Linked DNA regions of Homo sapiens. The protein of the gene in region 2 interacts with the protein of the main gene of each other region in a biochemical or structural test. Each region holds a gene or a part of one and is shown on either strand. Other genes may lie near its edges.

The links.
Region 1: the proteins of KPNA4 (region 2) and ZNF526 interact in a biophysical measurement, tested with the Homo sapiens proteins (one large-scale study listed by IntAct).
Region 3: the proteins of KPNA4 (region 2) and ZMIZ2 interact in a test that uses a peptide from one of them, tested with the Homo sapiens proteins (one study listed by BioGRID).

What each region holds. Positions count from the first base shown.
Region 1 is NC_000019.10:42,223,176-42,226,098, forward strand, and holds part of ZNF526 (zinc finger protein 526), read left to right. Parts: intron 1-1,039; 5' UTR 1,040-1,130; intron 1,131-1,211; 5' UTR 1,212-1,228; coding exon 1,229-2,923. UniProt on the Homo sapiens protein: May be involved in transcriptional regulation.
Region 2 is NC_000003.12:160,527,572-160,531,071, forward strand, and holds part of KPNA4 (importin subunit alpha-3), read right to left. Parts: intron 3,370-3,500; coding exon 3,284-3,369; intron 469-3,283; coding exon 382-468; intron 1-381. UniProt on the Homo sapiens protein: Functions in nuclear protein import as an adapter protein for nuclear receptor KPNB1. Binds specifically and directly to substrates containing either a simple or bipartite NLS motif.
Region 3 is NC_000007.14:44,755,154-44,758,881, reverse strand, and holds part of ZMIZ2 (zinc finger MIZ domain-containing protein 2), read right to left. Parts: intron 2,695-3,728; 5' UTR 2,633-2,694; coding exon 2,583-2,632; intron 2,458-2,582; coding exon 2,343-2,457; intron 1,936-2,342; coding exon 1,733-1,935; intron 1,505-1,732; coding exon 1,321-1,504; intron 1,035-1,320; coding exon 774-1,034; intron 1-773. UniProt on the Homo sapiens protein: Increases ligand-dependent transcriptional activity of AR and other nuclear hormone receptors.

The DNA.
Region 1 (2,923 bases), on a different chromosome or scaffold from region 2:
TTCTCAGAAAAGGTGTGCCTGGCCCTCTCGGTAAAGAGGCCAGGCTGGCTGGGCCGGGTGTGGTGGCTCACACCTGTAATCCCAGCACTTTGGGAGGCCGAGGCAGGCGGATCACGAGGGCAAGAGATCGAGACCATCTTGGCCAACATGGTGAAACCCCATCTCTACTAAAAATACAAAAATTGGCCGGGCGTGGTGGCTCATGCCTGTAATCCCAGCACTTTGGGACGCCCAGGCGGGCAGATCACGAGGTCAGGAGATTGAGATTGTCCTGGCTAACACGGTGAAACCCTGTCTCTACTAAAAATACAAAAAATTAGCCGGGCGTGGTTGCAGGCGCCTGTAGTCCCAGCTACTCGGGAGGCTGAGCCAGGAGAATGGCCTGAACCTGGGAGGCAGAGCTTGCAGTGAGCAGAGATTGCACCACTGCACTCCAGCCTGGGCGACAGAGCGAGCCTCCATCTCAACAATAACAACAAAAAAATACAAAAATTAGCTGGGCATGGTGGCGCACACTTGTAGTCCCAGCTACTCGGGAGGCTGAGACAGGAGAATCACTTGAACCTAGGAGGTGGAGGTTGTAGTGAGCCGAGATTGCGCCACTGTACTCTAGCCTGGCAACAGAGCAAGAGTCCATCTCAAAAAAAAAAAAAAAAAAAAAAAGAGGCCGGGCTGTTGGCCGGGGTGGTGGCTCACATCTGTAATCCCAGCACTTTGGGAGGCCAAGGCGGGTGGATCACCTGAGGTCAGGAGTTCAAGACCAGCCTGGCCAACATGGTGAAACCTTGTCTCTACTAAAATATATATATATATATATATATATATATACAAAAATTAGCCAGGCATGGTGGCACACCCCTGTAGTCCCGGCCACTCAGGAGGCTGAGGCACGAGAATAGCTTGAACCCAGGAGCGAGAGGTTGCAGTGAGCCAAGATTGTGCCACTGCACTCCAGCTTGGGTGACAGACCAAGTCTCTGTCTCAGAAGAAAAAAAAAAAAAAAAAAGAGGCTGGGCTGAGTGGTGTTTCTCTCCTGCAGGCTGCCGTGGGGTGTGTGTAGGCTTCAGAGACATGGGATCACGGAAGACTGAAGCAGAAACAGTGGATTAAGACTTCCTGAGCGATAGCTGGTGAGTAGTGGGATGTGCAAGAGAATTCCACCTCCCCTTGGTTTCCTGCTGTCTCACTGGCTCCTGCCCCTCTTTCTCCAGGCACTGCCTTCCCCACAATGGCAGAGGTGGTGGCTGAGGTGGCCGAGATGCCAACACAGATGTCACCAGGGGCAGTGGAGATGTCAACACCTATGTCGGCAGAGATGATGGAGATGTCAACAGAAGTGACTGAGATGACACCTGGGGAGGCCCTTGCCTCATCCCTCTTCTTCCAGCATCACCAGTTCATGTGCTCTGAGTGTGGCAGCCTCTATAACACACTGGAGGAAGTCCTCTCACACCAGGAGCAGCACATGCTTGCTGTCTCAGAGGAGGAGGCACTGACCACACAGAATGTTGGCCTGGAGCCGGAGCTGGTGCCGGGTGCTGAGGGGCCCTTCCAGTGTGGTGAATGCAGCCAGCTCATCCTCTCCCCTGGGGAGCTCCTGGCCCACCAGGATGCCCACCTCCGAGAGTCTGCAAACCAGATCCAATACCAGTGCTGGGACTGCCAGGAGCTGTTCCCCTCGCCCGAGCTGTGGGTGGCTCATCGAAAGGCCCAGCACCTTTCTGCTACGGTAGCTGAGCCACCAGTGCCACCTCCTTTGCCTCCCCCAACACCACTGCCTCCACCTTCTCCCCCATCCGAAGTCAAGATGGAGCCCTATGAGTGTCCTGAGTGCTCTACCCTCTGCGCCACCCCTGAGGAGTTCTTGGAGCATCAGGGCACCCACTTTGACTCCCTAGAGAAAGAGGAGCGCAATGGGTTGGAGGAGGAGGAAGAGGACGATGAGGAGGATGAAGAAGATGATGAAGAGATGGAGGATGAGGAGGCCATGGCAGAGGTCGGTGATGATGCTGTGGGAGGTGACGAGTCCACAGCTGGCTGGGCTCAGGGCTGCGGGGACTGTCCCCAGCACCAGCCCTCAGCAGGGGCTCGCCGGCAACACCGGCGGACGGCTCACAGCCCGGCATCTGCCACCCACCCCTTCCACTGCAGCCAGTGTCAGCGCAGTTTCAGCTCCGCCAACCGGCTGCAGGCTCATGGGCGGGCCCATGTTGGTGGCACACATGAGTGTACAACCTGCTCCAAGGTCTTCAAGAAAGCAGCATCGCTTGAGCAGCACTTGCGGCTGCATCGCGGGGAAGCCCGCTACCTCTGTGTAGACTGTGGCCGCGGCTTTGGCACAGAACTCACGTTGGTGGCTCACCGGCGGGCCCACACTGCCAACCCATTGCATCGCTGTCGTTGCGGCAAGACGTTCAGCAACATGACCAAGTTCCTCTACCACCGGCGCACTCACGCCGGCAAAAGCGGGGCACCTCCCACAGGAGCAACAGCTCCCCCAGCTCCAGCGGAGCCCACCCCTCCACCACCACCCCCTGCCCCACCTGCCCAGCTGCCCTGCCCACAGTGCTCCAAGTCCTTTGCCTCAGCTTCCCGGCTGTCCCGGCACCGGCGTGCAGTACACGGGCCCCCTGAACGGCGTCACCGCTGTGGGGTTTGTGGCAAGGGCTTCAAGAAGCTGATCCACGTGCGCAACCACCTGCGGACACACACGGGTGAGAGGCCCTTCCAGTGCCACTCATGTGGCAAGACCTTTGCTTCTTTGGCCAACCTCAGCCGCCACCAGCTGACCCATACGGGTGCACGTCCCTACCAATGCCTGGACTGTGGCAAGCGCTTCACACAGAGCTCCAACCTGCAGCAGCACCGGCGGTTGCACTTGCGGCCAGTCGCCTTTGCCCGCGCCCCCCGCCTCCCCATCACT
Region 2 (3,500 bases):
AGTTTTGTCTTTTTTCTTGTTACTTTCTTTGATGGAGAAAGCTGAGAAATAAAAAGGGACCCCACTGATCAACATGGGGGTTAGGGGAAGAAAAAATGGATCCTAGCATGAGACAGAAGGTCTAAATTGTATACATCTTGCATAATTATTCAAATAATTAAGAGCTAACTATATACCAAAAAAATGGTATCTTAAGCAACAAAAATTCTATTTACTATGACTTTATGCTTTTACAGTAATACAGTTCAAATTTCTGTAAGCTATTTCACAAAAACTAGTACTGAAGGCAAACTGTTTTCTCTTTTGGATTACTAGTAGCTATTTTTATTACTTAGTATATGATAACAATTTTTAGACTAGTATTACAAGTTTTATACAAACCTATGATATTTCCCAATGCCCACACTGCTTGCTCACAGACATTCTGATGGGGTGAATGGAGAAGCCTCAGGAAAAGTGGCACAGCATCTGATGGAAGAAAAAATAACAATACTTAAGGTTGAAGATACCATAAACCAAAAATCAATCTTTATTTTTTTGCTGAGACCTCAAAAAAAAGGGAACCTATAAAAATATACTTAAAATATAACCTCATTAAATGAATTTTATTGGAATAGCATCATTGGAAGAATTTTGACCAGTGACTATTTACTCAGTATCAAAATGAGTTATCCAGACAAGTGTTAAATTAGGCTTGTGAAATTTCATTAACAATTAAACCTGGAATTAATTTCAAGATTAATTCCTTATAGATTATCTGTAGTTTGAAAAAAAAAAGTACATTATTGAAGTAACTTTTTTTTTGTTTTTTTGAGACGGAGTCTCACTCTGTCATCCAGGCTGGAGGGAAGCGGTGGAATCTTGGCTCACTGCAACCTCTGCCTCCCAAGCTTCAGTGATTCTCCTGCCTCACCCTCCCAAGTAGCTAGGACTGCAGGTGTGAGCCACCATGCCTGGCTAATTTTTGTATTTTTAGTAGCGACAGGGTTTCACCGTATTGGCCAGGCTGGTCTCAAACTCATGACCTCAAGTGATCTGCCTGCCTTGGCCTCCCAAAGTGCTGGGATTACAGGCATGAGCCACTGCACCCGGCCTGAAGTAACTTTTGAACACAAATTTATGTTAACAACATGTGGGTCTTTAAGACAGGCCAGTGATTCCTGGGCCATGTGGGATCTTCCGAATCAGAAAGTGATTCTGTTACTCAACAGGATGGGAAACAGAGATAGGTCTGTATCTGAACAAAATACTGCACTGAACAAATGATTCTTCTTCTTTCCTTCTGATATTACTTTAAAAAGCACTATTTAAGTATATGTAGCTCAATCATGCTTGTAATATCATAAAAGGTAATTCACTTATGGGTTTGTTTTTGAGATAGTGCCTTACTCTGCTGCCCAGACTGGAGTTCAGTGGTGTCACCACAGGTCACTGCAGCCTTGACCTCCCCTGGCTTAAGTGATCCTCCTACCTCAGCCTCCTGGGTTGTTGGGACTATAGGTGCATGCCACCAAGCCCGGCTAATTTTTTTTTCCTGCATTTTGTAGAGATGGGGTTTTACCATGTTGCCCAGGCTGGTCTCTAGCTCCTGGACTCCAGTAATCTGCCTGCCTCAGCCTCCCTAAGTGCTAGAATTACTGGCATGAGCCACCATGCCCAACCTCATTTATTTATTTATTTATTATTTTTGGTATATTAAAGCAGACTAGCAGGGTCAAAAAAATTCTAAGCCTCTTTCTAATCTTTAGAGAGCATACATAACAGAAAGGAAAAAGTGTGAGAGGGAATAAAACATTGTTATGAAACCAAAAATTTTCCTAAGAGTCAGCTATACAAAACCAAAAAACCACAATAAAAACCACCTGAACCCAAAACCAAACCAGTTTTAATAGGATGTGAGGTAATTATCTTTTCTAAGTAATATTACAACATAAGTGTCTACAGTAAAATGATTATTTGGATAACATCTTTGTTCCCCTTCAAAATGTACAAATTAGTGCTTACATTTTTAATAAGCTCAGAGAAGTATGCTGCTTACATATTTAAAGAGGATTTTAAAAGTATCTTCTTTAAAATTATTAATTTCTTTGTTTGGTAGAACAATCAAATACTATTCATGAAGACAATACACTCGGGTTCTTACTTCCAATAATTTTCCACTTACATTTCTTGAAACAAAAAAAAGCAATCCTATTATAATAACAATGAAAAAAAAATTCGAGCCATTCTTTCAACTAGGACTACTTTATAGAAGATTTCTTTAAAATATATGATATGGCCGGGCGTGGTGGCTCACACCTGTAATCCCAGCACTTTGGGAGGCCGAGGCAGGCGGATCATGAGGTCAGGAGATCGAGACCGAGACCATCCTGGCTAACACAGTGAAACCCCGTCTCTACTAAAAATACAAAAAACTAGCCGGGCGTGGTGGTGGGCGCCTGTAGCCCCAGGTACTTGGGAGACGGAAGCAGGAGAATGGCATGAACCCGGGAGGTGGAGCTTGCAGTGAGCCGAGATCGCATCACTGCACTCCAGCCTGGGCGACAGAGTGAGACTCCATCTCAAAAAAAAAAAAAAAAAAAAAAAAAGAGAAAAATCTCATTAAGAGAGGCTGAGGCCCGGTGTGGTGGCTCATGCCTATAATCCCAGCACACTGGGAGGCCAAAGCAGGTTGATCACTTGAGCCCAGAGTTAGAGACCAGCCTGGGCAACATGGTGAAACCCTGTCTCTACAAAAAACACAAAAATATTACAAAAATTAGCTAGGCACAGTGGCACATGCCTGTAGTCCCAGCTACTTGGTGGACTGATGCGGAAGGGTCTCTTGAGCCTGGGAGGCCGAGGCTACAGTGAGCTGAGATTGTGCCATTGTATTCCAGCCTGGCCAAAAGAGTAAGATCTTGTCTGAGAAAGAAAAACAACAACAACAAAAAAACAAAAACAAAAAAAGAGAGGCTGAGAGGCAATGTGGCAACAGGAAAAACTCCTTTATTTCTACTGATGTCCTATAAATAAAGTGTAACAATAATAATGTAATCTGCTACTATAATTAGGAAATGTTCTCATATTTAGAAAGGAATCAAGTGAATTTTTGGAAATACAAAAAACATCAGTCACCAGAATAAGAAGATTAAAGTAACATACTTAAGTTGACCTATTTCAATAACTACGTAGTAGCTATTATTTTATAATTTAAATTGCCATAGTCTTTTGGGAAGATCACTATTTTTTACCGACTTCTTTTAAAAAAAATCACAATTATGTTTATTAATAACCAACTTACTGGACTGAACTACTGCTTGAGTTTGTTCAGAAGTTCCAGATGCAATGTTTGTCAAAGCCCATGCAGCTTCAAACTGTAAAGAAGGACTACAAAAAAAAACAAGTATTTTTAAACAGCAGGGATTTTTACATTGGGCCAAATATCTAACCATTCTTCCTTCTACCATTTAAAATGCATTAAATATTTTGTTTCAAAAGTTATCTATCCATCCAGCATA
Region 3 (3,728 bases), on a different chromosome or scaffold from region 2:
AGTGCAGTGGCATGATCTCAGCTCACTGCAACCTCTGCCTGCTGGGTTCAAGCAATTCTCCTGCCTCAGCCTCCCAAGTAGCTGGGACTGCAGGCGCCCGCCACCACACCCGGCTAATGCTTTTTGTATTTTTATTAGAGATGGGGTTTCACCATGCTGGCCAGGCTGGTCTTCAACTCCTGACCTCGTGATCCACCCGCCTTGGCCTCCCAAAGTGCTGAGATTACAGGCGTGAGCCACCGCGCCCGGCCTAATTTTTTCTATTATTAGTAGACATGCGGTTTCACCACATTGGCCAGGCTGGTCTTGAACTCCTGATCTCAAGTGATCCACCTGCCTCAGCCTCCCAAAGTGTTGGGATTACAGGCATGAGACAGCATGCCCGGCTTTTGCTTTTTTTTTTTTTTTTTGAAACAGGGTCTCACTCCTGTTGCCCAGCCTGAAGTGCAGGGGAGCGATCACAGCTAACTGCACCCTCAACTTTCTGGGTTCAGGCGATCCTCCCACCTCTGCCTCCCAAGTAGCTATGACTACAGCCACATGCCACCACACCAGGCTAATTTTTGTAGAGACACGGTTTCGCCATGTTGCCCAGGCTGGTCTCAAACTCCTGAGCTCAAGGGATCCACCCTCCTTGGTTTCCCAAAGTGCAGGGACTACAGGCGTGAGCCACCATGCCCAGCCAGAAGCCTGCTCTTTACCACAGCTCTAAAGAGTGCCTGGGTGAGGGAGTTGGTACCCAAGGCCCCAAACTAGGTGACCTGGACACTCACCTCAGAGTAGGTTCTCTTGACCCCCTGTCGGGGCAGTGGCTGGGCCTGGGGAGGCCCAGGATACCCATGTTGGGGCAGACGCTGCCCTGCATACAAGGGTGTCATTCCTGCTGCCCGGGTGGGGTTCATAGCCAAGGGGGAGAGGCCAGAGGGGCCCATTACCCCTCCTATGCCAGTAGGGTTCATGCCAGCGGGGACACTAGGCCCCCGGGGACCTCCATGCTGCAGAAACTGGCTGTTAAAAGACTGTCCGGCCCCCATCTAGGAAGAGAAAAAAGAAGAATGGTCCAGGTCCCACCCACAAAGGGCTCCAAAAGATAGGCATAAAACCCGCCCACCCACCCATGTGGGCACCATACCCTTTCACAGGACACCCCAGAAACCTCTCCCCTCAGACCCTCACTCCTTCCCACACATCTCTCTTTTACTGGCTTCATGAGCCCTGGCATATTCCATGCTTGTCCCTGGAGCCCACTGTCTGGCTGAGTACCTCCTCCCAGGCCCTCAGGCTGGCTGCCATGTGGGAGGAGCTGCTGAGGGGGCTCACCGCTCCATACTGGCTCAGCTCCTGGCTCTGCTTCTCCTGGAGAGCAGCCACGGTGGCTGTGGCTGTGGCGGTGGCAGTGGCTGCCGCAGCAGCCACAGCTGCAGCAGCTGCCGCTTGCGTGAAGTCAGTGGAGGGTCTTGCAGCATGTGAGGGGAGGCCCAGGCCCCCCGGGCCGCCTGCATACCTGCAGGAGACACAGGATTGCCACGCTCTCTGCGTGGGCTCATGAGGGCCAGGACTGTGCTCACCCCAGAGGCATGCAGCACCCAGGGGGAGCCCATTCTTTCTAGACCCTCCACTACAGCTGTCAGGAAGCAGAGAGGGAACGTCCAGCTGATCAGCGCCACAGTTCTGAGGTGCCTGCCAGATTGATGGCTCCTAGCATACCTGCCAGGTGAGGGAACTTGCTTACCCGGTGGTGAAGCCGGGGGCCCCAGGGTAGCCCCCGCGGCTGTACACGCCTTGCTGCACGTAGCCCTTGTTGGCGCCGCCTTCAGCAAACGCCTGCTGTCCCAGGCACTGTGGGGAGGTCAAGGCGGAGCTGCCCCCTGCCACACCAGGCATCATGGAGCTGCCAGAGGGACTCCCTGCAGGGCCCATGGGGTTCCCCAAAACCTATGAGGAAGCAGGAATCACCAAAGGGAACCAGCCAAACAACGTGCTTCATGCAGCAGCTCCAAAGTGCTAGAAACCAACAGGCCTGGCAAGTGGGTTGGGGGAGAGGTGGGGGGGACAGGGTATAGCACGGGAAGCAGGGAAAGCAGCTGTCCACAGGGAGGTTGGGGCATTTTGTGAAGGCTAGGTGAAGACAGGAGAAGAAAATCCCACAGCAGGTGTGGAAAGAGAACCAGTGTCCAAAGACTTAGGGGACTCAGGAGGCCCCATCCTCATATGTCATGCCTCAGCCTCTCTGTCCTCACCTCTCAGCCTCTTCGTCTCTCAGAGCTCTGAGGAGGCACTAAGCACTGCCAAGTGCTGGGAGGCTCTGTCTGCTCGGGGGTGGGGCACCAGTGGGTGCTTACCTGGCTCTGTGTCGCGTTGCCAACTCCCCACACAGTAGTGACCACAGACAGCGATCCAGCCGGCTGAGTGGCGCTTTGTTGCCAAGGCACAGACTCATATGCGAATGAACCATCACTGCAGGGAAAGAGGCTGCTGAGGCCTGGGTCAGGAAGCCACTGGTGTCCAAGAGTCTAGGATCTTCCAGAAATGCCACCCCCAACCCCAGGGCCTGAGGGGTGGGCAGAGGAGCCCACACTCACCCGTGTGGCGCAGGGGGCAGGGCAGGTTTCATGGGGTTCATGGAGTTCATTGGCAATGGAGCAGCCTACAGGCCGGGTCTGACAGTTTTTATCTGGAACTCAGCTGCTCTGGCTGCCCGACAGGAAGGAAGGGATGTTAGCTGCGATGCAGCCAGGAGACCCTTTCAGCAGGGTGGAGGGACCCCGGTGCCAGCAGGCCCCACCTCTTTCTCAATAAGGGACCCCTGGGCTCTGATGGCAGGCAAGGCAGTGGAGGGGCCTAGTACTGACCCACCCCACTCACTCTGGTGAGGATCTGCCCCCACAAATACAGCCTGGAGGCCAGCATGAACCCTTTCTGACCAGGCCCTGCCACCCAGAGTCCCTGGATCAGCCCTAGAGATGGACTTCCCGATTCCAAATACTTTCCCCACTCTCCCGCCCACACCGAGGCCTGGCTATCCTTATAAAGCCAGGGACAATCCTAGCTACCCCGTGGAAACTGGGGTTTAGAGAGGAGCCAGTAGCCAGTAACCCCACAGAAGGCCCTGGGGTGAAGGACAGAGGGCAGTGGAGGTGAGGGGACTCCCTGCTAAAGGTCTTGTCTACCCTGAGTAGCCCAGGTAGGGGCATAGGCGGTTCTGGAGGCCAGGGGCTGAGAAAGCCGAGGAGGAGAGTGCAGGGGTGCGGTGATCACAGGAGTGCAGTGGTCAACCAACAACTCTCCATCCTGGCCTTGGGGAGGGACATGCAGGATACCTCCTGAAATGGGGTGTGGGGCCAGTAACCTGGGCTCTGGCTAGCAGCCCCTCCCAACAAGAAGGCCCTCTTTAGGGTAGTAGAAGGGCTCCAGGCCAGGGCACCTCAGAACTGACCCAGATTCCACCAAGTGGGGGCTGCCCGAGGCTGATATGGTCCTAGGGGCCAGGCAGGCAGACCCACTGGCCCATCCATGACACCCCCAGGAGAGGGCAGGGACACACAGCACAATAGATGGAGGGTGGGCACCCACAGACCTGGCAGGGACTGTGACTTGGCCAGTGTTTCTAAGAAAGGGGCTGGGGAGACATTGAAGTGACTCTGCAAGATGGGGCTGAGTGGATACCAGTGACCTGGTGCTCAGGACAGGGCAGCAGAGGGGGTGTGTCAGGGAGGACGCATGCAGGA